4 separate regions of the Homo sapiens genome follow, and regions 1, 2 and 4 are each linked to region 3. The links come from fine-mapping of genetic effects on gene expression. A gene starts in region 3. Each other region holds a variant in brackets. All regions are shown on one strand. Distances are between the middles of the regions.

Evidence for each region. PIP is the estimated chance that this variant, and not a neighbour inherited with it, causes the effect.
Region 1: its variant is the best candidate, but not a certain one, in a credible set for the expression of FLVCR2 in monocytes (TOPMed, PIP 0.63).
Region 2: its variant is the best candidate, but not a certain one, in a credible set for the expression of FLVCR2 in subcutaneous fat (GTEx, PIP 0.52).
Region 4: its variant is the best candidate, but not a certain one, in a credible set for the expression of FLVCR2 in left ventricle (GTEx, PIP 0.69).

What each region holds. Positions count from the first base shown.
Region 1 is chr14:75,604,751-75,613,041 of GRCh38, reverse strand. The region is part of intron 1 of FLVCR2 (FLVCR choline and putative heme transporter 2); the gene reads right to left. It also overlaps the pseudogene RNA5SP387. Among named protein-coding and RNA genes, the nearest start is that of FLVCR2-AS1, 29 kb to the right of the region's middle. The variant G/A (reference allele first, on the strand shown) is at 4,730.
Region 2 is chr14:75,614,673-75,621,567 of GRCh38, reverse strand. All of the region lies in intron 1 of FLVCR2 (FLVCR choline and putative heme transporter 2), which reads right to left. Among named protein-coding and RNA genes, the nearest start is that of FLVCR2-AS1, 39 kb to the right of the region's middle. The variant A/G (reference allele first, on the strand shown) is at 2,492.
Region 3 is chr14:75,573,940-75,582,230 of GRCh38, reverse strand. FLVCR2 (FLVCR choline and putative heme transporter 2) reads right to left here and starts at 3,611. Exons shown (of 10, transcript NM_017791.3): 1 at 2,590-3,611. The coding sequence starts at 3,258. It overlaps FLVCR2-AS1 (FLVCR2 antisense RNA 1), which reads left to right and starts at 2,643. Exons shown (of 3, transcript NR_110552.1): 1 at 2,643-4,454; 2 at 5,686-5,826; 3 at 7,138-7,330. RefSeq lists a silencer at 3,666-3,735 and an enhancer at 4,446-4,505.
Region 4 is chr14:75,624,149-75,632,439 of GRCh38, reverse strand. FLVCR2 (FLVCR choline and putative heme transporter 2) reads right to left here. Exons shown (of 10, transcript NM_017791.3): 3 at 7,688-7,828. Among named protein-coding and RNA genes, the nearest start is that of ERG28, 33 kb to the left of the region's middle. The variant C/T (reference allele first, on the strand shown) is at 5,321.

The DNA of each region.
Region 1 (8,291 bases), 31 kb before region 3:
CAAAGTTGGTACTATTTAGGCAAGTCTGCACACTCCAGTCCATAATTCTGTTGCTATAAATACTGCTCTCTACCCCTTGGCCAGCATCATTTAGATGTTTGCTTATACCTGCTAGTGAATAACTGATCTAGCAACATGGAGAATAAACAAGGGCTCCAAGACCTCAAGTGGAGGAGACCAGGCTAGAGTGAAGGCACTCTGCCAGGCAAGCTACCTTGGGACATGTAGTCGAGGTTTGGCAGGGGGTCTTGGGACTGAGTCTGCGGATGCCCCAGAAAGAAGCAAGGAGAGTCCAAGGTGGCTGCTGGGGCTGAGAGACACTGCAAAACTAAGAACCCAGAGCTTGAGCTTAATCATGAGAATGAGCCCCGAGCACCCAGGAATGCCAGGCGGCTCCACGGTAACCGATAATGTCCAGGCAAAGACCGCTCATATGACTGTTATTTGTGAAATCTCCAAATCCAAGGCTTCTTTTGAAAAGGTCAACTCGGGATCAAGGAGGTAGCAGGCCTTCAAAGACAAAGACAATCTAAACAACCTCATTGATTTGGTGGAAAATCACTCAGGAAGGGGGTTTATGGATTTAAAGGCTAAGCTAAGATCTCTAAGAACTTAGGGAGTAGGGTTACAGCTGGCCAACTCCAGACTTCCTTCAAGCTCCCGCCCCCGTCACAGGGTTTGTCCTGAAAGCTGTGATTATGCTGGTGGCTTTTACTGCCCTGACTCCTGGATTCCCTCAGTTCTTTGGGTGAAAGAGGTTAGAGAAATGCAGGAAGCAGCAGCTACTGAAATTAGGATAGCCTACAATCATTGATCCCTAGGGAAGATAATAATAGCGATGAGAGCTGATACACTGTGCTCAAAGCACCCTATAAATATATATACTCTTTGAATCATTTTATTTTTTAATTATTAATTTTTTTCTTTTGGGGGGCAACACTTCACTCCATAAAATAGAAGGCGTGCTCCCCTAATGTCTATTTTAAAGTGGAGGAAATTGGCATTTAAGTAGCTTGCCCAAGGTCACATAACAGTAAGCGATGAGGCTAAACTTCAAGCTCTGGCCATCAGTACTCATCTGTACTCTTATCCATTAGGTTAAAGGCGCTGGTCTTAAATGTTACTCAAACCAGGAGGAAGGAGGTGAATATGTACTGAGTGTCTGCTATGTGTTAGACAGCATGCTAAAGGCTTTTTCACATGATATTTCATCTATGCCCTCACAACTACCCCCTGAAGTTGGCACCATCATCTCTGGTTTGGGTTTTGTTTGTGGGTTTTTTTGTTTGTTTGTTTGTTTGTTTGTGAGACAGGGTCTCACTCTGTTGCCCAGGCTAGTGCAGTGGTGCGATCTCGGCTCACTGAAGCTTCTACTTCCCTGGCTCAAGCAATCCTCTCACCTCGGCCTCCCAAGTAGCTGCGACCACAGACATGCGCCCAACACACCTGGCTAATTTTTTGTATTTTTAGGAGAGACGGGGTTTCACCATGTTGCCCAGGTTGGTCTCGAACTCCTGGGCTCAAGCAATTCACCTGCCTCGGCCTCCCAAAGCGCTGGGATTACAGGCATGAGCCACTGTGCCTTGGCCTCTGGTTTGGTTTTTACAGATGAGAAAGCCTCTATAATTTGCCCAAGGTCAAAACAGCTTCTCCTGGCAAAACTGAGATTCATACCCTTGGCTATCTGATTCCAAAGCCCTCAACGGACAAGGTGAATGCCACAGAAAAGTGACTGCCCTCACACCCGACACTCCCTCCAGTCTCATATGCTCCATTCTGTAGTTCAAATGTCCCCAAATGTGTAGCTGTCGGAGGAAGCAAGGGTGAGAGGTGTCTCCAGCTACAGTTTGGTTTCTTTGCCACAGTTACACTTTACAGGTTTCTTGTTTTTATGTCATGCTTAGTTTTGTTTCTTTTTGTGTAGTGTGTTGTCTCCCAAACTAAACTGTTAGTACCTTGAGGACAGGGACATTGACTCACATTTGCTCATGTGACCCTCCCGCATACCACGTCTGACACAATCACAAGAACAGAGACAGCACTCAGGAAATATTTTCTGAGTGAAGAAATAACTCTTAGAACTGTGCAGCTCAAACCTCACTCAAGTCTTTCCAGGCTGCTCTGCAGTAAACAAGTTGGGCACAGTAGCAGTTTGCTGCATTGTAAGAGTTTAACCACCCAAAGCGAGTAGATGCCAGATGAAATGACCTAAGGAAGCCCCCAGACAGGGAAGACCTCTCATTTGGGGTGCCCCAAGATCAGGCATGGAGGGGATTCGAATGCAGACCAATCAACTTCTCACTCTTAGACCTACACTCAGTATTTATTGAGCACCTGCTGCATACTAGGCACCCTACTCAGAAGGGAAGAGAAAGATGCAAGACAAGGAGCTCACTCTCACCCGGTTTATAATGTAATATACCTTGATCTTGACCTACAGCCTTGGTGTTGGGTTTCCTCCTCATCTTTGTGGGGGGTGCAAGTTAGCTGAAGAGCAGAGATACACTAGGCTGTAAACAGAGAAGTTGCTAAGTTTAGGTGAAGAAAATGAGTTTCACAAGGAAAGTTTTCTGATTAAAGAAAAAAAAAGGAACACTGACAAAGGCCGTGTTTTATTTTTTTAGCTAAGCCCGGTATTTATGCTTGCTTTCTGTCATCATGAACTCAGGAGCTTCCTGGCACACACTCCTCCTTTTAAGGACTTGGTGTTCCCCTTGAAGTTGTCCTCATGGTGAACTCCACAAAGGGCCAGCCTAGGTCTACTTTGGGTGCAGAAGTGAAGAATCCACTGCCTTTTCTTTCAGTGAGAGAACAAATCACTGTCACCTCAATACATTAATGTCCCTCTAGCTGACTGTGCTGAAAGCCAGTGGTCACAGAACTTCCCCATGACTCGGCTAGGAAGGAGGAAAAATGAGTGGGTGTCTTTCAAACCACCCGGCCAGCTGAGATCACATCAGATCACATCATGCAAATCTTACTCCAAAGTTTTCACATTTGAAGTAGGCGATGTGCAAAGCGCCATTCAAATGCTTTGGCACTGATTGCCCACCAATTCTGTCCCAGACACCAGCAATCAACAGCCAACAGAGGGATTCTCCGGTCTTCTGCATTCCCTTAACACTAACCCCCCATCTATCCCCCCCAACTCAAAGGTGCCACTCCCTGACCTTTGACAGATAAAACAGCCCAAAGGAGAATAATTGTCTCCTTTGTCTGCAAGGCAACATTCTGGCATTCCTAAAAGGGATGCTCACGTGACGACCAATGTTTCTAATCCTCCCATGTTTCCTTCTAAATCTGGATGGACTTTCTGGTAATAGCCCTCCTATTCTGATTTTTTCAGGGGTAAAACCCTGCCAATTACTTACTGGCAGGCCCTGGAAGAGTTGCTGCTTCATGGACTGCCATGGGCAAAACCCAGTTCCTCTGGAGCATGCACTTCAAGAAATAGATAGGATGGGACCCATGTAGCTTTTTCCTAAGAAGCCAACTTCATAAGTTAACTAAGCTTGCCTCAGGATCCCAGACAGACAGCTGGAAAGAAAAAGAAATCTCAAGCTTACACCAAAAAAACTATTAGTCACTCACATCTATAACGCCCTGAGAGAGAGAAAGAGAGAGATTGCAGCACCATTAGATCTGGCCCTGTTATTTAGGGAGTTACTCAGGGACCTGCTTAGCTAAAAACATCTCCTAATATCCTGCTTTGAAGTCACCCGCCCTCCTACTTGGGCTGACATTTGCACCATTAGCCGCTCCGGTGTGACTGGCTTATAGTGTAATCTCTCTTCCCTTCAATGTGAACTCTACAAGAACAGAGGGCTATTGCCAACAGGGACCTTCCCTTTCCCATTCATTGCTGCATCCCCAGCTGTGAAAATGTTTGTTGTTTGGCACAGAGTAGATGCTCAATAATATTTGTTCAATAAATAAAATAAAGGCTATGGTGCATTGTCTAAAAAAAAAACACATGACAGGCCAAGGGGAGGAGGGCCTTCTTTAGTGGCTTTCATTTCTCTCATTGCCTGCTGTCAACTGGAAAGACATAGGGAAGCTGGCTGGAGGGGATGCAATTCAGGACAAGCAGGATTCAAGGAACTTGTTGTAGAACAGAGACAAAGATGTGATAGCCAGGGGACTGTGTGGGTTATTTGCAAGGGACAGAGGTCTGGCCCAGGATGGGGGCACACTAATAAAGGACATGGCTTTTGGTGGGGCAGCATGAGAATACGGGGGCAGCCATACCCAGGGAAGACAATGAGGAACCTTCCTCCCTAAGGAGAGATATAAGAATTCTGGAGAGAGAAGCTTGTCGAACGGAAACTGCAACATCTTCCTAAGGGTTCCAACATCTTCACAAGGGCTGTCCAAGCCCTACCGATCCCCATTTGTTACCATCGATCATTGCCACTTGCTAACTGTGAGGGGCTGCGAGAAAACTTGGTAGGGCCAGGACCACCATGCCCTCAGGATAAAACTTCTCCCTCCCAGGCCTATGTCCTGAGGGTGGGGATGAATCAGTTCTGTGCTATGCCACCACAGCCATTTTCCTACACTGAAGAGAGGAACCATCTTAGGCACATATAGACTCAAACGTTGCATCGTGCCACTCCTGGCAAAAGGCCCCTCTGCAGCAAGCGGTCAGTTTCCTGGAATGAAAAAGAACCAGAATGCTCCACAGGATTCCTGGAGCCGCCGAACAGCTCAGCTCAAGAGGATCAAATCA[G/A]CAAGTATAGCTTCCTTTCTTTGCCGATGAGAGGAAGGCTTTGAAACCCAGAAGCTCTGAGAGAGTCTCCTACGGTAAGGATGATGGAGCTTATCCTGAACCATGAGCCGGTGTAAAGGCAGGAGTGCTGAGCCCTCTACATGGAGGGCATGGCCCCCAATCCAGGCAGGACACGATGTGTGTCTAGAGAAGCCCTTTTTATTCTACTGTCAAAGGGCAAGTCCAGAGTATTTTTTGATTTTTTAGATGAGAACTCACACTGTTGCCCAGGCTGGAGTGCAGTGGTGCAATTACTGCTCACTGTAACCTCAAACTCCTGGGCTCAAGTGATCCTCTCTAGCTCCCAAGTAGCTAGAACTACAGGCATGTGCCACCACACCCAACCAACTTTTTAACTATTTTTGTAGAGATAGAGTCTCACTATGTTGCGAAGACTGGCCTTAAACTCCTGGCATCAAGTGATTCTCCCACCTCAACCTCCCTAAGTGCTAGGATTACAGGTGTGAACCACCACACCGAGCCCCCCTTTTTTTTTGAGTTCAAGAAAGGGCACTAAAAGTCAACACTGGCAAAATATTTCACCATTTTCAAGGCACCTACACATCCGATATATTACCAGAGCCTCAAAACCACCCAGTGAGATCAAGAGCAGGATGCCCAAAGTCCAGACGAGGAAGCAGAGACCTGTCAGGGCCAAACTGTCTTCTCTACTTCATAACTGAGTTGAAGCAACTTGAAGTCACAGAGCTAATCATCAACATCGAGACTTCTGAGGTTCCATTCCCAGCCCTGCTCTCTTCCCATGGAACCTTGCTGAGTCTCAAAAAGGCACAAAGCAGCATCATATCCCCAGAAGACATGGTCTGAGACTCAGGATGATCCAGAACCACTTCTGGTTTGGAGCCAGCCAATTCATGAATCACTGTTTGCTCAAATAAACTCTTAAAAAAATTTTAATTGCACCTCCGTTTACCTTTTTTAACACTAGCATGTTGTAGAACATGAGTTTGGTAGAGAGGGAAAAGATAGATATGGACTCAGTAAATGTTTACAGAGGGCTTACTTGGTTCCAGGAGCTGTTTCACATAGACATTGCCTCATTTAGCTTTCATGGCAACCCTGTGAGGCAGGCATTCTTGCTATAGAAAAAAAAGCTGATGCCCAAAGAGGACAGGTATCCTGCTGGAGGCCCCAAACATGGCTGCTGGGTCCAGCTTCCATGGCTTCTATACCAGGAGTTTTCAAACTTCAGTGGGCATCAGAATCCCTAGAAGGAGAATCAAAAATACATATTCCTGGGTCCCAACCTAGAGGAGCTAATTCCTTGGGTCTGCTCTGGTGCCCAGGAATTTGCTTTTTTTTTTTTCTTAAGACAGGGTCTCACTCTGTCCCTCAGGCTGGAGTGAGGTGGCATGATCTTGGCGCACTGCAACCTCCACCTCCCAGGCTCAGGTGATCCCCCAACCTCAGCCTCCTGGGTAGCTAGTACTACAGGCAGGCACCACCATGCCTGGCTAATTTTTTGTAAAGACGGGGTTTTTCCATGTTGCCCAGGCTGGTTTCCAACTCCTGGACTCAAGCAATCCTCCTGCCTTGGCCTCCCAAAGGGCTGGGATTATAGGTGTGAGTCTCTGAATTTGCATTTTTAATGAACACCCACGTGGTTCTGGTGCAGGGGCTCATGCAGCATACTTTAGAAACAATTGATCTCCACCACTCTGAGGAAGGAAATCAAGAGAATTCTCAGCTGCTGGCTTCCCCTATGTACCCTAGGCAGGAATGGTGGGAGAGAGGTGTGTTCCTGTCTAGCTTCTCAGCAGAGAAGGGATGAATCCTGGGTGTGCTCAAATGGGTGTCTCCACAAACCTGTCCAGCACCCAACAGGAAGCCCGGGATAAAGGTCTAAGGAGGCCTAGATTGCTCAAAAGGCAGCTACTAGCCCAAACAAACAGCCTTGAGAATGAACCCTGCTTTAACATGGATGCCTCACCAGGGTGGTGGCTCACATCTGTAATCCCAGCACTTTGGGAGACAGAGGAAGGCAGATCACTTGAGCCCAGGAGTTCAAGACCAGCCCTGGCAACGTGGCAAAACCCCATCTCTACAAAAAAATACAAAAATTGGCCAGGCGTGGTAGCATGAGCCTGTAGTTCCAGCTATTCGAAAGGATGAGGTGAGGTGGGAGGATCACCTGAGCCCGGGGAGGTTGAGGCTACAGTGAGCCGTGATCATGCTACCGCACTCCAGCCTGGGCGACAGACTGAGACACTGTTTCAAAAAACGAAACAAAAGCCCACGAATGCCTTATGCCTGCTCACCTCCTATGTTTTCCAGTAGATGAACACAGCAAATAGACTTGCATACAGACAGCTACCTCTAGAGCCGCCAAAGGAGACCCAGCCATGTCAACCCAGTCATTGTATGCAGAAATCAGGAGTTTCCAGGGGAGAGAAGAAAAAAAGGAGAAAACCAGCTCCCAACCTTGCTCCAGCTTCTGTGTCCCTCTTTTCCGGAGCTGGCAGGGCTGTGCAATCAAAAGCAGCCTCCTGGAACTGAAAAATACTTGTGTTCAACTCCTCTCTGGAGAAGCAATCGGAGGGGAGCCAAAGCAAACACTCCTCCCTCCTAAGGCTCCGGACACACGGCTGAACCCAAAGAAGTTGGGAAGGAAGTAAGATCTATCCTCACCTCCTGTCTCACGCTTCTACAAACACAGATGGTGCTGCTGTTATCTGCGCTCATGCTGGGACAAGGCTGCGTCTTGAATTGTGTTGGGGTGAGAGGCTGAGCTCAAGTTTTTGCACAGCATGAAAAAGGAAAGATGCCTGTAATCAAGTCAGAAAGCAGAAGTGTCTGGCTGGGCCACCAGAGCTTACAGGGTGCCCTCCCACCTATGAATGACTCACCAAAGAAAAAGGCCCTTAGCTCTGTAGAATCAAGGGAGGGGAGATATTCCACTGGGTTAACTTGGGAATGGTGCTAGGTAGAAAGAAGTCAGGAGGTCAAGAAAGAAAGAAGAGGAAACACCACATATCACCTTAACCCTATGGTGATGGTGATGGTGGTGGTGGTTGTTGTTTTAATCATCCTTGATGGCACTCCAACCTACATCCTGCAATCCACACAGGGCTGTTTGATGTTGAGGCTTGGGGGGAGTTCAAGTCAAGGGAAGGACATCCTGTTAACAGCATTGTTGGAAAAAGATCAAGAACAAGGAGATGGAAAATAGCTGTGAACACCTGATAAGCCTGGGCGCCCCCCGCCCGGTCCCCCTACCCCTGCCCGCTTCCTTCAGTCTCAGGTTTGTGAGACTAAAGTCTTGTGCACAGGCATAGGGGTTGACCCAGTGAGTATCTGTGTCACCCCAGAGTCTCCAAAGTCTTCATCACCGCACTCTGGGAATATTACACCAACTTCCTGCACCCATATTGCTTTTAGTTTAAGTAGCTCTCAAGAGGCACAAGTCTCCATCAGGATACTACTGGGATACTTCCTGGAATGGCCCAACCTCCCCTATGTACCAACCCCTGGTCACTTCACTCATTAGGAATCAGCTCAACCT
Region 2 (6,895 bases), 40 kb before region 3:
AATAACGTAGTAACTTCTAAAGCATCTGTAGTGTGAAGTCACACATAACTGCATAAATTTATACACATAGGAGATAGGCACGTAAAAAATGGCTATAAACACACACACACCCCCAACAAATTAAACCATTTCTTTTTTTTTTCTTTTTCTTTTTTTTTTTTTAAATGGAGTCTCGCTGTGTCGCCTGGCTGGAGTGCAGTGGCGCAATCTCGGCTCACTGCAGCCTCCGCCTCCTGGGTTCAAGCAATTCTCCTGCCTCAGCCTCCTGAGCAACTGGAACTACAGGCGTGCGCCACACCTGGCTAATTTTTGTATTTTTAGTAGAGACGGGTTTCACCATGTCGGCCAGGATGGTCTCCATCTCTTGACCTCGTGATCCACCCGTCTTGGCCTCCCAAAGTGCTAAACCATTTCTTATCTGGGTTGGAGTCCAAACTCCAGTGACCGACAGATAACATGACTTGGGTGTTTCCGAGGTCAGAAAGGCTTGGCTTCAGTACTGACTGGCTGTGATACAATTCCCAAAAGCCCTTCTGCTGCACATAATATTGAGGCGGAAATGGGAAAATAGCTTGTGAACTCAGGCAAGCTTCAGATTCCAAGAGTGAAGGAAGATGAGTAATTCCTTTGTCGTAAGGTCTCATTTTTCCTTTGTTGTACTTGAAAGAGCTACAGGTAAAGAAACAATTTGCTTTCGCTCCTCACTTTCACATCATCCATCAACTGCCAATCTGCTGACCCCCTTGATTCGTTTTTCCTTCTGTCAATTACAGCCATTCAAGATGTTTACTAGTGGTTCTCAGTTCTGGAATATTCACAAAAGTGGTCACTCATAGTTGCTGTGTAGAGTTCTTTATACCAGTATGTAATCAATTAACCAAATGCATCTTTAAAACGTACTCTGCTAGATATTTTAGAAAGTACCAAGAGGTATAAGACAGAGTTTCTGCCTTCAAGGAGCTTAATAATCTGTTAGCAGGAAAAATGTTAAAACAAAAATACAACAGATAACACAACTGGCCATATTTGTGGGTTAAAATGATAGAATATTACAGTTTGAAAGTTCATCTGTAATCGTTTATTATAATTACAAACCCAATAATTACAGGAGAAAACAAAGGCCAAGTGAGGTTAATTGAGCTCTGTGACTTGTTGAGGGTCACCCAGAGTTCTAGCAGAGTGGAGGTGAGAAAGCAGATCTCCTGGCTTCTCTGGCCAGTGCATCCCAGGCTAAGAGCCTGGAGAAAGGCCCAGGCAGGCAGGCTTCTGCAGAACAGAGGCCTCTTTTGTGTCCTTGGAGCTTTAGCTGATCCTTGGTCATACTGGTTTGTCAGAGTCAGGCTTCCTACTGCTCATCTTCAAGACTTTAATTGAAGGTAGAAACCAGCCACAAGCAGAGGGGCAAATGCAACCTTCTTCATAGCTGGGAAGCTGGGCCCACTCCAGCTCATATATGGCCTTCTAAGCACTTTGGAGTTGGAGGTCTGGAAGTTAAGTAGAATCTCCCAGGGTCCCATTTGCAAGAGTGAGGAAAGATACAGACATCATCTGAGGCTCTGTGACTCTTTCATTTCCAAAGGAAAATTAAAGCTCTGAGGTCCCAACACAGGATATCTTAATTCTCAGTTAATCTTCTGCCCCATTAAAGAAATCCTCCCAGCTGGTGCTACACTGTATGCCCTCCTCCTCTGGGGCAGCTGGACTCTGTTCATTCCATCTATACACCAAGCTTGAGTGAGTGCTGTTCCACCCCAACTCCGGCTTTTAAGCCTTCTCCAGGCAGCAGGTTGGATGGGTGGGCCTTAGCAGTGGCCTACAGTAACCCCAGCTGGGCAGCAACACTGTCTCATGGTAACCTTTCTCAAGGAGGAAATTGGCTATGGAGGTACATTTATGCCCAGTGTGGAAAACCAAAACATCAGGATTAGACTGTAAGCTGCTTCCTCTTTTGTTTTTTCAATACATATTTTTTTCCTGCTTCTTAAGAGCAGTGTTTAGGGAGAGTCTATTTCTAGTTCCTAGTATATAGGTCTGTTCCATAGTCATGATGGATGGATGGATGGATGGATGGATGGATGGATGGATGGATGAGCAGATGAACGTTGGTGGAAAATCCTGTCTACACAAAGCTAGGAATGACACATCTCTCTATTAAGGTCCAGGTTCTTTCTACATTGTACTCACAGTGGTAAGAAAAAAAAATGTGTATGGGAAAGTAAGGAGAGGGTAGGATACCCTAGTGTATCTTGAGCATCTACTATGCGCCGAATATGTAATACACTTTATCTTTTCATTTAACCCCAATAACTTTATTTATTTTTAATTAATTATTATTATTTTCTGAGACGGGGTCTCACTCTGTCACCAGGACGGAGTGCAGTGGCATGATCTCAGTTCACTGCAACCTCTGCCGCCTCCCAGGTTCAAGTGATTCTCCTACCTCAGCCTCCCAAGTAGCTGGGATTACAGGTGCCCACCAACATGCCTGGCT[A/G]ATTTTTGTATTTTTAGTAGAGACAGGGTTTCCCCATGTTGGCCAGGTTGGTCTCAAACTCCTGACCTCAAGTGATCTGCCCGCCTCGGCCTCCCAAAGCGCTGGGATTACAGGCGTGAGCCACTGCACCCAGCCTATCGCCAATAACTTTGTAACAACAAAAAAGAGAGAGGGCAAAAAAAAAAAAAAAACCCTGCTGCTCAGCACCCTGCCCAGGGTCACACAGGCAGCTAGCAGAGGAGCTGGGCTCCTAAGCCAGTTCTGTCTGATGTCAGAACCCAGGCTCACTTTGCTGCCTTCCATGAAATGTTGGTGTGATACTAGTCAACACGGAAGTCTACATTTTCACCCATTTGGGTTGTCATTCATTTGACAGGAAACCTCTGGGGTACAAATCAGAGACCTGGGGCCTGAATCAGTGAAACATTAATTTAAAATGTGGGAGAACGGGGCACATGGAGCATTTGGCATCTTTCCTGGAGACCCACCTTGGGAAGGCAAATGAATGAATGTCACTGCTAACTGGTTTTGAGTTGACTTACATCCCTGCACTTGTTCTAGTTTTATCATTCTCAACAAAACACAAAGTCATGGGCAAAATACAAAATTCATGGTCAAACCAAGTCATAGTCTTAGCTCTTCTGGAACATACTTTTCAAAATTAGGCTCTCTTCATTTTTACCCATCCCATAGCAGTATTTCCCAAACTTGTCCCATAACAAACGTCACCAGTACCAACCCCGTTTTTATCCCTCAGGTCTGAGGTGGGTCCTAGGTACCTGTATTTTCATATGCAGGCATCCCCATCTTCATCAAGGGAGTTGGGGAGATACTGGCCTCTGAAAAAGTATGACTCATGCCTCCTAATAGCTTCCATGCAGCTCTGCTCCTAGCTATTTTCCATGATAGCCAGCCATCTTTGGAAAACGTCCTGCTTAACACCCTGCAGTGACTTCTCCTTGCTTTAAATTAGAGGTAAAAATCCTAAGCACAGCCCACAAGGTTCTGCACATGGGCTCTGTCTAATGGTCTGACCCTTGTCACCAGCTTGTTCCTCAGGACTTTGCTACACTGAGCTCCTTTCTGTCTTTCAAGTGACCATGGGGAGTTTGCACCAGCTCCTCTACCTGGACTAGAATCTCTCTCTGCCCTGTTTCAGCTAGTCAATGCAGATATCCTTCAGGTCTGAGTGCAAATCCTGCTTCCTCAGGAAGGTTGCTCTAATCCCTTACATGAGGTTGGGTTCCTGCATAGGTAATTTTATATTTGTATGATCATTTAATTAACATCTGTCTTCCCAACCAGATTATAAGCTCCATGAGGGCAGGGCTCACACTGATCTCTGCAGGCTGGCACATGATAATACTCATCATAGTAAAATGTATGAGCTTTATGCAGAGTATCTCAAGCCTCACAACAACCCCAGAAAGAGGGGTCTAACATCGTCCCAATTTTACAGATGATGAAGCTGAGATGCAGGAAGGCTAACTGACTTGCTCAAGGTCACACAGCTATAGGTAGCAAAGCTAGAGTTTTCAACATACAGTATTTCAAAGTTAGGTAAGCTTTACAACTATAGTTTACTTCATCCCAATAGAGGGTGTTTAACAAAAAATGTGATGAATGAAGGGATGGAGAGGCAGCCTGGGATATTTAATTTTCATTTTCTATTTTATTTTCACCCTTTCTGCAAACTCAAAGGTGACCTCTAAATGCTACTGTAATGTCAGTAATCAGGAACGTTTCCAGAGCAAATGTCACAGTTAAAAACATGTCTATGTCGTCTGAGGGCCCTAGGTGACAGGGAGAAGCCATACTTTGAATGATGTCTCACTTGTGATTCTAGCTCATGCATTTGGCAGAGCAAGAATAAAACCAGAAAATCATCAGGCTGCGTCTGGGGTAAGATTTCCATACCCAACCCATTACACAACACAACACACATGCTATGCCAGCTCTGAGATCCACAGAACCACTGTTTCCCATCCTCTTCCACCATCCACTGTCCCCACCCACCATTCACAAAGCCCTAAGTCACAATTGAATCAGAACCCTAGCACACAGATGCCCTCCTAAATCCTACCTAGTCATGGGGCCAGAATATGGCCAGGCCATCCAGGGAGGATCCAAGAGCTTCCCCAAAAGGCAAGGCAAGGAGCTCTTTGTCCACACAGTGGTGAGGGCTTCAGTCCAAATGGAACAGGAAAAGAACCAGTAGTCCCCATCTGAGCCTTTTGCTGGGTCCCAGGCAGCTTATCCTCTTGACCCAAGCCACTGGCAAGGTGGATCCTGCTCCTGTTAGGAGACAACAACCTCCACAAACAGGTTCTCACCTACTGAAACTCATTCCTCTCCCAACGTGCTGTGCTATTCAGACAAAGGCAAGCCCACCCTCACCCCTAGGGCTGGGCCCCAATTTGCTCAAACCAATTGGCTCATTCCTCTCCCCTGGGCATAATCACTGGGTATGGCTGGACATGTTCCCTTAGATTTCAGAGCTCTCAGGAGCTATCTTCCTAGTGCTGAGTCAAAAAAGTCCATACTCCATAAACATGTAAAATGCCATGTATCAATTAAAAAATATATATATGTATGTATCCCTTTATTGAGCCAGCTGCTTTCTTTGCACCAGAGTCCCTGAGGCTGAAGGCTTCCATCAAATTTGGTCCCTTTATGACCTAATCTGGGGCTTGCCTCATGCCCATGCTATGCTATTTTTATTTTTTAAATTAAAAAAAATTTTTTTTTTTTGAGACAGAGTCTCACTCTGTCGCCAGGCTGGAGTGCAGTGGCGCAATCTTGGCTCACTGCAACCTCCGCCTCCTGGGTTCAAGCAATTCTCCTGCCTCAGCCTCCCAAGTAGCTGGAACTACAGGATCATGACACCATGCCTGGCTGATTTTTTAATTTTTTGTGGAATTGGGGTCTCTCACTATGTTGCCTAGGCTGGTCTCAAGTGGTCTTCCCATCTCAGCTTCCCAAAATATTGAGATTACAGGTATGAGCCACCATAACTGGACTTACGCTATTTTTTTTTTTTTTTTTTTTTTGAGATGGAGTCTCACTCTGTCACCCAGGCTGGAGTGCAGTGGCACGATCTCGGCTCACTGCAAGCTCCATCTCCCGGGTTCATGCCATTCTCCTGCCTCAGCTTCCCGAGTAGCTGGGATTACAGGTTCCCGCCACCACATCTGGCTAATTTTTTTTTTTTTTTGTATTTTTAGTAGAGACAGGGTTTCATGTGTTAGCCAGGATGGTCTCAATCTCCTGACCTTGTGATCCGCCCGCCTCGGCCTCCCAAAATGCTGGGATTATAGGCATGAGCCATGACGCCCAGCCGGCCTTATGCTTTTTTAAATGAATCTCCCACTTCTCCTTTCTGCTTCAACATTCCTCAGAGACATCATCATACTAATATAGTGCTTAAGGGCTCAGGGTCAGGGGTCAGAAAGATCTCAATTCAAATCTCGGCCCTACCAGTTACTAGAGCTTGGCAAGTTAATTGACCTCTCTGTGTGTTTCCTAATCCACAAGAGGAAGAAAATACCACCTAGCTCATCGGGCTGAGGCTCACTCCCTGTCTGCAGGGTTGGCCCTTTCCCACACACTCTCACACAGCAGAGGTGACAGGCAGCAGAGGCCACTGGGACTCCCAAGATGCACTTGGTTTATTTGGGGAAGTCATACAAACCATCATCCTACCCTGGTTCTGCTTCACTTCCTTCTCTGGCTCCATCTGCGTGTCCTTCCTCAATTATCTTAGTCATCTTTGACTCTGCCCTCTTATATGCACTTCGTCTCAGATCCTCCCAAACCCTTCTGCAAAGTCCTCTTTGAATCTGCCCTGTCCCACTTCGGACCTTTCTGCCTTTCTCCCAGGCAACTGTGATCTCTCCTCTGCCCGACCTGCATGATGTACTCACATTCATGGTCCTTGGCGTTGCATTGACCCCACCGTCCCTGCTTAAAGAACTTCAAGGTGTCAGCCCTCTCAGAGGAAGGAAGCAGGTCCAAACCCCTCAGCTACTGTTCTTAGCCATTGATTTGGTTTGGCTCTGTGTCCCCACCAAAATCTCATCTCGAATTGTAATCCCCATGTGCCAAGGAAGGGGCCTGGTGGGAGGTGACTGGATCATGGGGGCAGTTTCTCCCATGGTATTCTCATGGTAGTGAGTTCTCACAAGACCTGATGGTTAGAAAAATGTTTGACAGTTCCTCCTTCAGACGCTCTCTCTCTCGCTCTCTTGCCTACCACCATGTAAGATGTGCCTGTTTCCCCTTCCACCATGATTGTAAGTTTCCTGAGGCCTCCCTAGCCATTTGGAGCAGTGAGTCAATTAAACCTCTTTTCTTTATAAATTACCCAGTTTCAAGCAGTTCTTTATCACAGCGTGAAAACAGACT
Region 3 (8,291 bases):
GCCTCCTTAATAAAAACTCTTCTCAAGGCTGCTTTACTTCCAAAGGAAGCTGGAGTCATACACTGCAAGGGCCATCAAAAGGCATCAGATCTCATCACTCAGGGCAATGCTTATGCTGATATGGTAGCTAAAGAAGCAGCTAGCATTACAACTTCTGTCCCTCACGGCCAGTTTTTCTCCTTCTCATCGGTCACTCCCACCTACTCTCCCACTGAAACTTCAACCTACCAATCTCTTCCCACACAAGGCAAACGGTTCTTGGACCAAGGAAAATATCTCCTTTCAGCCTCACAGGCCCATTCTATTCTGTTGTCATTTCATAACCTCTTCCATGTGGGTTCCCGCCTCTTAGAACCTCTCATTTCCTTTCCATCATGGAAATCTATCCTAAAGGAAATCACTTCTCAGTGTTCCATTTGCTATTCTACTACTCCTCAGGGATTGTTCAGGCCCCCTCCCTTCCCTACATATCAAGCTTGGGGATTTGCCCCCGCCCAGGACTGGCAAATTGACTTTACTCACATGCCCCGAGTCAGGAAACTAAAATACCTCTTGGTCTGGGTAGACACTTTCACTGGATGGGTAGAGGCCTTTCCCACAGGGTCTGAGAAGGCCACTGCGGTCATTTCTTCCCTTCTGTCAGACATAATTCCTCAGTTTGGCCTTCCCACCTCTATACAGTCCAATAACGGACCAGCCTTTACTAGTGGAATCACCCAAGCAGTTTCTCAGGCTCTTGGTATTCAGTAAAACCTTCATACCCCTTACCGTCCTCAATCTTCAAGAAAGGTAGAATGGACTAACGGTCTTTTAAAAACACACCTCACCAAGCTCAGCTTCAAACTTAAAAAAGAGGACTCTGTCAAGAATAGAGCCCAAAAACTCACCAAACAAACAAGTAATTATGCTAAATCCCCTTGGACCCCTTTGGACACTCTCTAATTAGATGTCCTAGGTCCTCCCAATTCTTAGTCCTTTAATACCTGTTTTTCTCCTTCTCTTTTTCAGACCTTGTGTCTTCCGTTTAGTTTCTCAATTCATACAAAACCGCATCCAGGCCATCACCAATCATTCTATACGACCAATGTTTCTTCTAACAACCCCACAGTATCACCCCTTACCCCAAAACCGTTCTTCAGCTGAGTCTCTCCCACTGTAGGTTCCCACGCTGCCCCTAATCCCGCTCGAAGCAGTCCTGAGAAACATCTCCCATTATCTCTCCATACCACCCCCAAAATTTTTCGCTGCTCCAACACTTCACTATTTTGTTTTGCTTTTCTTATTAATATAAGAAGACAGGAATGTCAGGCCTCTGAGCCCAAGCTAAGCCATCCTATCCCCTGTGACCTGCATGCTTCAGGCAATCCAGATTGCCTGAAGCAACTGAAGATCCACAAAAAAAGTGAAAATAGCCTTAACTGATTTCATTCCACCATTGTGATTTGTTTCGCCCCACCCTAATTGATCAATGTACTTTGTAATTTCCCCCACCCTTAAGAAGGCTCTTTGTAATTCTCCCCACCCTTGAGAATGTACTTTGAGATCCACCCTGTCTGAAAAACATTGCTCCTAACTCCACCACCTATCCCAAAACCTATAAGAACTGATGATAATCCACCACCCTTTGCTGACTCCTTTTTCAGACTCAGCCTGCTTACACCCAGGTGAAATAAACAGCCTTGTTGCTCACACAAAGCCTGTTTGGTGGTCTCTTCACATGGACGTGTGAGACAGGATTACCAATCCTTTGTTAAACACACAGCCAGGACTGTACGTGCTTGGAAAGATGCGAGACTGGGAGGCAGTGGTCTGGCTAAAGGACGTTTGCTTTAAATATTCCCATAAATATTTGCTTCGAGTATTTGGAGACGGCATTCAGGTTCACAACCTGCCCAGCTTTCTGGATCATAACCACATTGAGATGCAAAGAATTTGAGCTTCTCCTTCCAATAAGAAAGAAAGAGAAAAAGATTAAGACATGAACTACCCTTTCTAGGCCATGGAAACTCAGAGTGAGATTTCTACTCCATCCTGCTGGACTTGGCTCTAAATCCCAGGCAAGGAGTTTGGCACAAAGCACTGCTCCCACTGTCCTGGCTTCAGCTGTGTGTAAAACAAGGTAAAAGCAGTGCCAAACACCACCAGGCATGGCTTTGCAATTCTATGCAGTAGAGGAGATACTGCACTCTAGGAAAGCTGGTTGGTCCAACTGAAAGCACTGCCAAGTTCTGATGACACCAGAATAGTCTGATGCCCAGGGGCTGCTGCCAGACAGAAGAGCATTCCTGAAATTACAGGTCTAAGTTGGTGGACTGACACAGGTTCGAGAACGACACAGCGAAGGTATAGTATGTTCTAGAAGCATGCTTTTGGCTGGGGCAAGAGCAACTGTGGATGAAAGAGCAGGTCCCCCTGCTTTTGTTTCCCGCCTCTCTTACAGCATCACAATCACTGCCTGTCACACCCAGTTACTGTCACCCAGAGTCACAAACACTGTTGGACAATCAGCAAATTATAGCCTACCACACCCAATAGTTAGGTGCAATCTAACACACGCCCCTGGGAACATTCACAAACTGTTCTACCTACCTGATTGCCAAAGACAGCCACGGAGCAGGCTGTTGAAACCTCATTAGCCCCGAACCAGACGGAAGCGATGCGGGAGGGCATGCCCAGGATGAAAACCTGGGCCACAGAGCAGATGAGCTGGCCCACCACGGTGACCGGAAAGAGATGCGGCTTCAGGCTGCCCAGCTTCACCCAGGCCCCCAGGCAGTTGAGAGCCGAGCCAGTGAGAGCAATGGTGCGCAGGCCGAACTTCTCCAGCAGCCAAGCCACTGGCAGGAGCAGAGGGATGTAAGTCAGCATGTAGCACATGGACAGCCAGTCAATGGCAAAGGCACTGACACCGTAGAAGTGCATGAAGATGTTATTGATGGAGCCGTACTGGATCCACTGAAAGGAGTTGCACATGGAGTAGCAGCTAAACACCAGGACCACGGCCCAACGGCGCCTGCTCACCTTGATCACGCTGAGGTCCTCAGGGCCCGAGCTACTGGGGTGAGCCAAGCCACTGGGTTGGGCTAAGGCACTGGGGTGGGCCGAACTGCTGGGGTGGACAGAGACGCTGGGGTTGATGGAGACGCTGGGATGGACCGAGACGCTGGGATGGACCGAGACGCTGGGGTCCGCTTGGAGTGCGGACTCCGGCACAGGGGTGTCATCGCTCTCTTCCTGGTTGGGACCTTCATTCACCATCGCCACAGTCTCCTCTGGAATCCTGGAGAAGTGGTGAGGACTCCGGCAGTCTTAAGGGACAGTGGCCTCTGCTGGTCTCTTAGAGTTGAAAGGACACTTGCCTATTCCAGAAGAAACAGAGACTAGAGGCTGCGTAAAAGCCTCAAGTGGGGCTTCCTGTGCTCACCTCCAAGCTCCTGCTCCCACTTTTGCTTGGGGCTCTCTGTTGCCACCCGCGGCGATCGCTGTCCCAAGGCCGGCCGCACACGCCGCAGCCGGCTCCGGACCGCTCCTGCCTTGGGTCTCCCCACGAGGCGTTCCTTGTGCAGGAAAAGTTCTCTCCTTGCGCAGCCACTTCGCCCGCAGAGTCCTCTCCCGGGCCAGCTTGGGGCCTCGCCCAGTCGGGCACACGTGACCGCCCCGCCCCCGTCCTGCCTGGCTTCTTCCGCCCCCAACCCCCCCGCCACCACTCCACCCCCGACCCAGTGTCTCTTGCCTTCTCGAGCCCGGTCCTCCGGGCAGAGCAGTTGTTTCGCCACAGCTTGCGGGATGCATTCCTCCCCCACGCCCCGGGCGCCATGGAAACCGCCCGGTTAACCCCCACCCTTTGCACTGCCCCTCATATTCATTTGCCACCCGCTATCAGCGGACCCTGCAAGAAGATCCGCCTTCCCGAAGTAATGCCCAAAATAGAGCCTCTCCGGTGCCTGTCCGCATGCCCTGCGCGCGTGCACCAAAGCCCGGCGCCACCTAAGTGTTCTGGGGAATTCAAGAGGGATTCCCCAACTTTCTCCCCCTTGGCTTAGGCTCCCAGCCCTTTGCTGAACTAAAGAGAGATTTGTAGATTTCCCGGGCTGGTTGCGCTCCTGGGTTAAAGGGGAGTTACAGAAAACTCGCTTTACTCGCTTCTTTCCCTGCGGACGTGGTTTTGTCTTGGGGAGGTTAGATTTGAACCTGTTATGTGGGGCTATTTTTCCTGATGGATTCTGGGCGAAGACCCTAGGGTGCGGGGGAGGGAAAGGAGAGTTTGAAGAAGCCGAAGAAGCTGTCCGCGGTTGTGTGATGGAACGCTTAGCACAGAGCTGGCTCCGGGCTTGGTCTTGGAAGCGGTCTTTGAACTCAAGCAGCCCTAGTCTGCCACCTGCCGGTCCTAGCCCATTTCAAAGGGCAAACCCTCGACTCGTTGCACTGACCTCTGTCCTTGGCGAGGGATCCTGGTAAGGAGCCCAAATTCTCCCTGAGTTCAAACACCAGCTTAGCTACAATGAGGTGCCACTGTAGACCAAGGAACTCCACCTCTCTGCGCTTCAGTTTCTTCATCTGTAAAATGGAAATGATGAAATAATAGTACCTACCTCACCGTGTTGTTCTGAGACTTGAATGAATTAATACACGAATGCACTTAGAAAATTCCTGCCACATAGTAAGCATTCCGCGAATGCTGGCTATCCTAGCAAAAAGCTAACATTTGTTGTACAGTGCTAAACAAATTGAATGCATTAGCTCATTTATGCATCACAAGAATTCTGTGATAAAGTTACTATTGCTGGCCTAAATTTTATAGACAAGAAAACCCAGACTCAGAGAAGTGAAGTAACTTCTTTCTGAAGGTCCCAGCTGGCAAGAAGAGCCATAATTCTCGTTCAAGTCTGTAATCATTCAAGCTGTAGCCTAGCTATTCAAGCACAGTCTGTGGTTAGCAGCGTGGGCACCTGTGGGAGCTTTTTAGAAGGCCAGAATCCCCTCCAGTGTTAAGGCCTTAAAAAACAAAACGGCAACCACAAAACAACCAAGAAGGTTGTCAGGCCCAACCTAGACCCACTGAATTGAAAGCTGCATTTTAACAAGATGCCCAGGAGATTCATTTGTTTACACATTAAATTTTGAGAGCTACTGGGCATCACTGCTTCTTTATTTTTTTTTTCTTTGTTAAACTTCAGACCAGAAAATGAATAACTTGAAGCTCTGGGAAGTGGCTCTCCATTTTGTCTGCACATTAGAATCATATGAAGAAACTCTTAATATCCCAAGTGTTCGGGCAACACCCCATTTAGCGATCTCCGAGGGTGGACCTGAACATCTGCATGTCACAAGCTCCGCTGGTCATCCAAACGTGCAGCCAAGTTAGAACCACTGATTCCCAGGAGAGAACTAGATTCAAATGATCACTCCCTGCTTGAAGGCACCTACTTTTTGGTAGAAACTATAGAGTCTTGGATTATAATGGAATATTTGGAGAGGGAGTTCAGACTCAGATCTAAGAATTTCTACAGTAATTTAACATCTCGTATTGTCACTATTCCTCCTGTGTTTCCCATCATTCTCCAGGGAGCACAGAACTCTGTTCTTTTAGAAGGCCTTCTGAGACCTCTCACTGCTTCTTTTCCCTCGGTCATCATGGGCCTCTTCCAAAACTCTTCATAATATATTCTTAACTTCATTTTACAGATAAGGAAACTGAGGCCTGGAGAGGCGGGTGTGTTACTCAGCGTCCTATAGTGAAATAGCATCAGAACAAGCAGCAATAAAATGGGTGCTCCTTCCACGTGGCCTTTCCCATGAGCTCTTCTGGGGCAGCCCTTCAGCTTGGTGAGAGATTCCAAGGGGTCTAACCTGGGATTCAAGTGAGATTTGGAATTGCTTTTGTGGTGGAACGAGCTGGATCTGTTGTGAGATCTGGGTTGGGTCTGCTTAGACTTGAAGCTCTGTTTTGTCATTCTTAGCTTTGGTATCTTGAGCAAGTCACTTGACCTCTCTATTCTTCAGTTTCTGAATCTATCAAATAAGGATTAAAAATACCTGCCTCCAGCCTGGCACGGTGGCTCACACTTGTAATCTCAGCACTTCGGGATGCCGAGATGGGTGGATCACTTGAGGTCAGGAGTTCAAGACCACCCTGGCCAACATGGTGAAACCCCGTCTCTACTAAAAATACAAAAATTAGCCAGGTGTGGTGGCACATGCCTGTAATCTCAGCTACTTGGGAGGCTGAGGCAGGAGAATCACTTGAACCTGGGAGGCAGAGGCTGCAGTGAGCTGAGATGGCACTACTGCATTCCAGCCTGAGAGACAGAGCGAGACTCTGTCTCAAAAACAAAAAAACAAAACAAACAAAAACCTGCCTCATAGAATTGCTGTGAGAATTAAACAAGCTAATATGCATAAACTGTTTTCAATAATAATGATCATATTCTGGGAGCCACCAGGGTAGGGATGACTCTTGGCTGATTCCTAATGTGGGGGGTAGGGTGTTGGGGTCATCTCTATAAATATTGGGTAGATACTACATAGAGAGAAATATTCTGTATTCATCCCATTGAAAAAACATGTATTGAGCAGCTTACTATGTAGCATATCTATCTTTATGATGTTCTTACTATGTAGCATATCTATCTTTATGATGTTCTATCTATCAGTACCTATAGGTACACTTTGAAGGGTAAGGAGAAATACATTTTAGGGATTGCTTCCTGAAAGGGGGCTCTGGTTCCTGGTTCCTGGCTCTATTCCAACTGACACCTTAGGAAGCTTGAGGGAACGAACCTCTGGCATTGAACTCAAGCTTGTGTGGCCTCTTGCAGAATGATAGTTAAGTCAGCCCACTGGAGGCTATCAGCAACTCCTGGATTCAAAGCCAAAACATCACCCTCTTATTTATAGCTTACTACTAGCCAAACAGAGCTATAGATTTAAGAGGTAAGGAGTTTGTTGAGTGCAGGGGAAGGCCAAATTTCTAACAGAATGAATCAGGTTGGGAGCCGGCATTATTCTTTCTTAAAAATATCAACACTTGGAATTTGTGAAAATGTTGCCCTTACAAGTTTTACATGCATAATTTATATGTGTGATACTACATGCTCATCAATATTCTGTTTGCCTTATCTCCCCCACTTCCCTCAGATTTCTAGCTGTCTCAGGACTTGTGGATATTTTTGTATATTTTGGAGTGTTTAGTGAGATAAACTATGTAACACACGCTCTCAATACGTATCTGTAGAATTGAGTTGTACTGCATATCACCATGAAATTTTACAAAACTGGAGACAAAGAGGAGATCCAACAGGATTTCAGAGATTTTAAAAAATCAGAAAAAGTTAAAAAAAAAAAACCAGATACAAAATATCAACACAGTTGCCTCAAGCCTGGAAATTTGAAGTCAGTGGAACAATGCCTTCTGAAGAAAAACCGTTTCTTACCTAGAATGCTATATCCAAACTACCAAAAAATCAGTTTGAGAAGAGAGTGAAACAACAAATGATACTGCCTTATCTTCTCTCTCAGGAAGCTGCTGAAGGATGTGCTCCACCAAAACAAGGAAGGAAACCTAGAGAGGGGAAGAGGTTAAGGCTGAGGAAACCGGGAATCCGCCACAAAAGGCAAACAATGGGAATCACCCAGCTAAAGGAAACTCCTGGGTAGACAGCTATCTACCAGGCATAAAAAGCAGTGTACTCGGCTGGTCGTGGTGGCTCATGCCTGTAATCCCAGCACTTTGGGAGGCTGAGGCGGGTGGATCACCTGAGGTCAGGAGTTCTAGATCGGCCTGGCCAACATGGTGAAACCCCATCTCTACTAAAAATACAAAAATTAGCCGGGCGTGGTGGCAGGCACCTGTAATCCCAGTTACTCAGGAGGCTGAGGCAGGAGAATCGCTTGAACCCAGGAGGCAGAGGTTGCAATGAGCCGAGATCGTGCCATCGCACTCCAGCTGGGGGGACAAGAGCAAGACTTTGTCCCCCCAAAAAAAAGAAAAAAGAAAAAAAAAGAAAGCAGCATACTCAGGCTGAAGCTGCTTTGAAGACTCCAAGGAAGAGTTCTTCAAGAAAGTCACACTGAAAGAATCATGTTTGAAAATATTGAGAGGTTTACACAATAGGGGGAAGATTAGGGGTTGGACTAATGATAAGTACCATAAATATAACTAAGTAAATGGGGAAAAGGAAGCATTATTAACTCCAGTGGAATAAACAAACTATGGAGGAAAAGGAAAAAATAATCATGATATACCCTAAGTGATTTGATTTGCATAGCATGAACACAATCCTAATAAAGTG
Region 4 (8,291 bases), 50 kb before region 3:
GTGAAAAGAGTCATTGTACTCCAAGAAGCACAAAGAATGGCTTCCCACAAGAATGAATAGGTCTCTCTGTCCATTTGTATCACCAGAGGACATTTTTATCATAAGCAATGTTGCCTAAAGGTAGTTGACGTACTCCCTTTATCAGGTTCCCAGGGAGTAAAAGATACAAAGTTAAGCGAAGGTCAAATTATCTTGCAAAATGGGAAATAATTTGCTTTGCAATCACACAGGTATTAAGTGATGGAGCTGGATTTGAACTCAGGCCCTGTGGCTCCAGATTTCTTGATCTTAATCACTCTGCTTTACATCCTCACAAAGCTGATTATTGAATCAGATTTTCCCAGCTCAGGTCATGAACAATTTCCTCATGTCCCAGCCTCTCCCAGCAGTTCACCCCAGGGATGCTACAAGGTTGGGCTCAATGCAGTCTCCTGAGCAGCACAGTGGGCCAACTGTGCACACAGTGAGCAGCACAGTGAGCCACAGTGGGCCAACCAACCCAGACATGTCCCCAAACATCACTACAACTGACAGGCTGATGGTTGCAATGATCATGAGGCTCTCAGCAACATCTCATTCAAGCAGCATTCCCATCTGCCCTTCATAGTACATACTCAGCCACTTAGAAAGTCCATTTCCGAGTGAAGAGATCCCGTAAGGAGACATTCCTGAAAAGCCAAGTGAGGTGGAGCGTGGGAAGGAGAAGAAAGAAAATAGTCTCCTCCCGTCTTCCCATTCATTCCTCCCGCTCCTCTCTAAGCCTCTTGCCTGCCCTAGCCTGATACTGCAAAGGGCAAGGAATGTTCCAACTCAGGCTTAGCTTCAGGGGAACAGCTGCTTTGCTAACTGGGATGAGCCAAGGATGGCAGAATCCACAGAAAAAGAAAGGAAATTATCCAGAAGGACTGGGAGCAAAAAAAATACACCAGTGCTCACTGGTCCTGATAAAGACCTGGGGAACAGAGTCCTGAACAGGTTGGCCCATACTGCTGAAGCTGAGTGGTTTTTCTGGGGCTCAATGGTTTAGTGAAATAGTTTCCAAAGTGTGGTCTCTGTTCCACCCCAGACCTACTGCAGCAGAAACTCTGGGAGTGAGGCCCCCGGCAATTTGCATTTGAATAAGCCTCCCAGGTGATTCTGATCGTGCTCCAGGTGGAAGCACTGGCTCCCTAGAGCAATGTGGTTAAACAACAGCCATCCCTGCTCCAGGCCAGACAGCAGACTGAAGCGGGGCTAAAGGGCGGCGAGAGGGAAGGAAGAGCAGGGGTTCATCCTGGAGGGCTGCCAATCTGTTCCACTGTTTCTGCAGCCCCACCTTAGAGGATTTAGGAGCTTATGTATGTTTTCTGAATCCATCTTTGGTCTAGATGTCCCTCACCATATTGTCAAAGTTTGCCAGACACAGTTAACCAGCGTAAGTCCACTCTACTGCCAAAACAAAGGGGTTGGGCATCCCACACAGAAGGGCAGGAATGAAATGCATGCTCCTTCCTGTGTGAGTACCCCTTACAGGAGTACAGGTGACTGCATTCTATTCAGGTCTGATCATCCTCAGCAAGGTGAGCCTGCTGGGCCAGGGAAGAGAAAATGTGATCTTCCCTGAAAGGCCTGGTCATTCCTGGAATCAGTCACCTGGGAGTAGTGCCACTTACTGAGGAGGCAGGCTTTAGAGAGGCAGAAAGGACTCTGTCATCATTCTGAGTCTCTTTCTCTCCTTTGTCAAAAACAATTTTTTTCTTTGTAAAAAATTTCTTTGGGGTCTCGCTATGTTTACCAGGCTGGTCTTGAATTCCTGACCTCAAACGATCCTCCCACTTTGGCCACCCAAAGTGCTGGGATTACAGGTGTGAGCCATCAAGCCCAGCCAATAACAATTTTATTCAAACTGTGTTCCGGTGACTACTGACATTAGAATTCCTTAAAGTTTAAAACTGCAGATTTTGAGGCCCTACCATAGACCTACTGAATCAGAATCTCTTGGAATGGGGCCCAGGAATCTGCATCTTTAGCAACTACAACAATAAAACCCCAATGCACTTGTTAAAATGTCTGGAATTTGAGAATACATGGCCTTCAAGATACAAAAGATCAGGGACCAGACCCAGGCTCCCAGGTGGTGGGGTTAACATGGAGGCAGCTGGGATGGGAAGGCGCTTCAAGACCCATCACACAGCTACCTCAGAGGTTCTCAACTCTGCTGCAAGTCAGAATTATCTGGGATGCTGGTAGAAAGCAGATTCCTAGGCCCCAACCCAAACTTTCTGAATCTGAATTTCCAGAAATCTATGCACACATTCAATCAAGCACCCCAGGGGGTCCTATCCTCAGGGAAGTCTGGGAAACACTGACCCCAGATCATATCTTTGGGTTTTGGTTATTCTGCGTTTCCCTTTAGTCCTTGTTTTAAAGGGCCAGCTTGACCTCGGCAAAGCTCCCAGGAATCTGGAGGATTTTATGCCCACTCCTCAGCCAGGATTTTAGAGGGGGCATGAAGCCCCCTCCCTAGGTCCATGTAGGTGGAGCAATGATAAAGTGCTGAGAGCCCCAAGGGAAGGTGAACCTTGGGATACACAAGTTGAGGCTCTGAGTTCAGATGCCAGAGGCACTGCAAGTTTATTCAGAAGCATGAATAATCTTGCTGGCAGCAAGTCTGGGGCATAACTATGGGAAAAGTACGCCCTTTGAGTATGCCATTTTCTAGAAGAGAAGCCTTTTCAACAATTCTTTTCAACAGGGCAGTTGTTATGCCATTGATAATAAGACATTAGAGGAGGCCATGTGAATGCAAGATCCAGAGACACAAAGAGAAGGTAGCCAGAGGAAGGTTCCTTTCTCCATCCCACCCTACCCTACTGTGAAACACACCAGAGACACAAAGAGAAGGTAGCCAGAGGAAGGTTCCTTTCTCCATCCCACCCTACCCTACTGTGAAACACACCAAAGACACTGGCAGACAGGTGGAATTTCTGGTTCCCTGAGTCTTCCCACATTGCCAAAGTTAAAGGAGAGAGGAAGGGTGTTTTACTGGCAGTTTCTTACTGATATGATATTTCCGCAACATCAAGCACGAGCTCCACCCCTGCACCTCTCCCCCTCTAAACTGAATTGCCAGATTTTGAAAAAAAATAGCAAATAAATACATTTATAATAAATAATAGTTCTTAGTATAAATATGCCACAAATATTGCATAAGACATATTTATATTAAAAGTATTTGTTGTTTATCTGAAATTCAGATTAACTGGATGGTCTTTATTTTATCTCTCAACCCTACCTCTAAGAGTGTAGCCAGAAGTCTAGGGAAAAGCCAGCAACACTTGGACCCTCGATTTCCTCCAAGGCCTTCAATTATCGCTGCACCTCAGTTCTGGGCAGTTGACTCATCAGCTGGGAGAACCACTTGAAAAGCCACTACAAATACAATACCACCAGCTGCAGGACAGTTACTCCCCCTCTTAGTGAAATCTGGTTTGGACCAAAGAAGCAACGCTGGAAACCAGTAAGTTTACCAATGCAATAGCATTGCAGTCTGGCAATGGCAGACTGGCAGTCTGGAGGCATGCCATGTCTTTATTCTCAACTGCATTAAAAGCTTTCACTTCCATTCAGAACACTCCAATGGGAAATAAGTATCATTACTGTTTTCTAGTGGGGGTGGAGAGTATTAAAGAGATGAAGGATGGGCAGCACAGATGGATGAAGGTGGTACACTCAGTATCTGGCAGAGCTGACACCAAAACTCAGACCTCCCATTTCTTATGAGCCAACTCTGAACTTACGAGTCCAGCACTCAAGGCTCTTAACCCAAGACATGTCCACCCATGTCCAGTACATGTGCCTGTGAAATGCTGTTGCCTGCTTAATTCCTAGCCACATGCTCTTTAAATGCATATAATTCAGAGCTAAATATGAACACTATGTGTACAATGTAAAAAGTATGAACCATTTTGTTCTTCAAAGTCCAATCTGAAACTGCAAGGGGATTAGGAGGACTGGGGTAATTCTGGAGGATTTCAAAGCATCTAGTTGAATTGATAGAGGGCATTTTAGAAAATTGTTTTTGTTGGGAGGCCAAGGCGGGCAGATCACCTGAGGTCAGGAGTTCGAGACCAGCCTGGTCAACATGGTGAAACCCTGTCTCTACTAAAAACACAAAAATTCCCTGGATGTGGTGGCGGGTACCTGTAATCCCAGCTACTCGGGAGGCTGAGTCAAGAGAATTGCTCAAACCTGGAAGGTGGAGGTTGCAGTGAGCCGAGATCATGCCACTGCACTCCAGCTTGGGCGACAGAGTAAGACTCTGTTTAAAAAAAAAAATTGTTTTTGTTTTTGTTTGTTTTAATTTGGAACAAACACAGTAGGAAAAGAAAGCAAAGATTAACAGTTGGAGTAAGTGCCTATAGTTCTCGCCCTATAGGCAAGAAGCTAAAACTCTAGAGCCTCAGTTTCCTCATGTATAAAATGAAACAAAGGGCTATGTCATGGGTTTGTTTTGAAAATTAAATGAGATAATGCATGTAAAGCAATTAACATGATTCCTCCGTCAAAAATTTTTTCAAATCTGTGATTAAGTCTAAGAATCATTTTCTTTTTGGCAAAGAACCCCATATGGACATCACATTCTCCAGAGTTTCCTTTCAGCATTTTCAGGCAGCCTCTTGTTCACCCCAACTGTTATCCCCACTGCAGGCAGCTACAATGTTAAGCAGTGCCATTGACTGTTTTCAACAAATGCCCTGGCAATAGGGCTTTTCCCATTAGCAAACTCCAAGTCAGGTTAAATAGCAACATGTCCTATGAATAGGGCTTTTCCGGGGACCTGCTAGGTAGGTCAAATAGTAATTCTCAGGGGTGGAGCTCCAAATCGACTTTGCTCCCTCCAATGGCTATGAGACAGTTGGTTTTCACAGCTCCACGGCTGCGAGGCTGCTGGATGTCACAGCCCCATGGCTGCAAGGCTGTAGTAGGGAGAAAGGGATTGGAATAGGGCAAGTGAAAACACAAGGCCCACTGTTGTTACTGATATTTAGCCATTTCTCTTGAATAAATGCTGCTTGGATTGTTGCAAGCCATTTGTTAAAAGTTCTGAAAAAATTCATTTGGATATTTTTTGCCATTGTTCTTGTTTCTATAGAGGAGCGGATTTTCTAAGGTCCTTACTCCACCATTCAAGAAGTGCTTTCCTATTTATTTCCTCGGTTATCATTTAATCAAATAGATAAGGAAAAGTGTCCAGAAGTACAGGATTAAAACTACTTTGTCAGATTAAAGACCACGTAAGCAAACAGGCATGTGAGAGGAAGGAGGAGGAGTAGCTTTG[C/T]TCCCCACAGCATGGCCTAGGCTTGACCCCTCGATGACCAGGAGCAACAATGTTTCTGGTACATTTTGTCTCTGTTTCTTGTTCTCATGAGTCAGTGACCTGGCCCTAAGACCAACAACCTCCAGCACTGAGGACCACAGCCTTTGGAATGGGACCATTGCCCAGTTATCACCACTGTCACCATTTTCAGCTATAGAAAATATTTATGAAGCACTCATCTGCCCTAGAATCCCAGGTAGGCCTCAAATATCCTCTTGTTAGATGCAGCAAGATTTATGGTTGTCAGAGGTCAATGCACTCATGATGTCCAACTCTAGCGAAAGTAAAAGCTCTTAGAGTCATGGAATCCTGAGTCTAGAAGGGCCCCCAAAGGCCATCTGGTTTCACTATCCATCTTTAGCCTGAGATCCCCTACAACATTCCCATCAAGTGGTTAGTCCCATCTATGCTTGAATACCTTCCGGTGATGGGGAACTTGTAACTTCCTTAGTTGGACTTCTCTAAGCATTGGAAACTTTGTCTTTATTTTGCGGATGAATGGGGAGACATACTCAGAGAATTGAGAAACTGGAGGAAATGAGGAACGGAGGACCAAGATCTTGAAGACAAACCTACAGCTATTCCAGATGAAAGGTCACCTAATTTCTATGTATGCCTGAAAAACAGGATTGCCCCTCTACCAGGATGAAGCCACCTCTTATCTAGTGTTTCAGCAGATAAACATTTTAGTTGAGATAAAATGTATTGTTGAGCCTAAAATGAAACTCTGGCACAATTCTAGGAAGGAACATCAGCAATTACAGAACAGGCATTAAGAATGCAGATTTTGGCTGGGCGCAGTGGCTCACACCTGTAATCCCAGCACTTTGGGAGGCCAAGGTGAGCAGATCACCTGAGGCCAGGAGTTTGAGACCAGACTGGCCAACATGACAAAACCCTGGCTCTACTAAAAATACAAAAATTAGCCGGGCATGGTGGCATGTGCCTGTAATCCCAGCTACTCGGGAGGCTGAGGCAGAAGAATTGCTTGAGCCGGGGAGGCAGAGGCTGCAGTAAGCCCAGATCGCACCACTGCACTCCAGTGTGGGCAAAAAGAGGCAAACTCTGTCTTAAAAAAAAGAAAAAAAGCAAAAGAATGAGACTTTGGAGTTAGACAAACTTGTATTTGAACTCTGGCTCTGCCACTTGAAAGTTGTGTGACCTTGGGCTAGTTATTTGGCCACTTTGAGTTTAGTTTCCTCATCTGTTAAATAGGGATAATTTTAGTACCAACATCACATAGGTGTACTGGAAGTTAAATAAAATCAGATATGAAAAGCACCTGACACATAGTAAGCACTATTGTTGTTATAAAACATAAAACAATAGCTTTTGAGTCTATAGGCAACATGAAGCCATGGCCAACTGGGGTTTCACTAAGAATAAGTCATGTCAAACCAATTTCATTTCTTTGTTTCATATGGTTACGGTACATGTCACAGATTTGCTAACGCTTAGTTTTAATCAAACTTTAACTGGTGGATTAAATGACCAAATGTAGGCTGAATAGCAATAAAGGTGGGTAGATATGTAGCAGCTTGAACTAAGGGTACTAACTAATAGACTGGCATTCATCTGGAGGACACTCTTTAGTGGAATGCTATGAGGCTCTGTCTTTGCCCTTGTTCGATCCAACAATCTTATTACAGGTTTGAAATAAGATACAGAAAACACCATGCGGGGAAAGAAAGCCAACATGTTAGCATAAAGATTCCAATTTATCTTTCCAAGAGCCAAGCAAATGAAATGAAAGAGGGATGTTGTTGTGCATTCAGATAAAATAGAAGTCAATTACAGGATGAGGGAGGACTGGTTGAGGAGTGACTCATGTGGCAAGACACATATATGCATGCATGCATTAATTAATTAACTAATTCAGTAACTACTGGAATAGTCACTCGAGGCCCGACACTGCTGAGGAACTATAAAGATGAAAAACATAAATCCACACTCAGAGAGTTCAGTCTAATGGGGAAATAGACCTGCAAAAAAATTTTTTTTTAATGACAGGTGTTAAGATGTACAAGGAATAGCATGGTAAGAGAGGGAAAGTTACCTACTACTGCTTTACAAAAGTGATACTGAGATGAGACTTGGAGGACCAACAGGCATTTGTCAGATAACCTGACATGGGAAGAAATTATTTTCTAGGTGGACTTTACAACACATGCAAAGGCCCTTGGGCATAGCTGGGTCCTCTGGATTGACCCTAGACAACAGCTTTACATGCACATTTGGGATTTAGAAAGAGTAATATATGAAGACACATCAGGCCTCTCATCTAACATTTCCAGCTCGAATGCATTCCTAGACACATTGACACCTTACCATAGGTGATGACAAGCAGCACAAAGTTGAGATTTTTGAAGAGCCGGGCGATGGAACCTAAGTATGAGGCATCAGGAGAGGTCAAGGCATAGCTCAGGGATTGGGCCCTGCTGGGGGGATATTTAGGTTTCTCCTTGAACACTGAAAGGAAAAAAACAGAGATGGCTGAAAATTCCCATGGTCCCACCCCAGAAGAGCTGGTTCCACATGAATGAAAGCTGCTCCATCATCTGAGAGGAGCTAAGACTCCCAAAGGAAATAGTAATTCTTTAATTAAACCCTTAACAGCCCCCTTCTTGAAGCTGCTTCTCATTGTTTGAGGCTGAGTGAATGGTCCTTTGATACCATTCACTTTTTTATTTTTTATGCCATTTTCTTTTTTTTTTTCTTTATTTTTTTTGAGACGGAGTCTCGCTCTGTCACCCAGGCTGGCGCCATCTCGGCTTACTGCAACCTCCACCTCCTGGGCTCAAGCAATTCTCCCATCTCGGCCTCCTGAGTAGCTGGGACTACAGGCGTATGCCACCACACCTGGCTAATTTTTTGTATTTTTCATAGAGATGGGGTTTTGCCATGTTGCCCAGGCTGGTCTCAAACTTCTGAG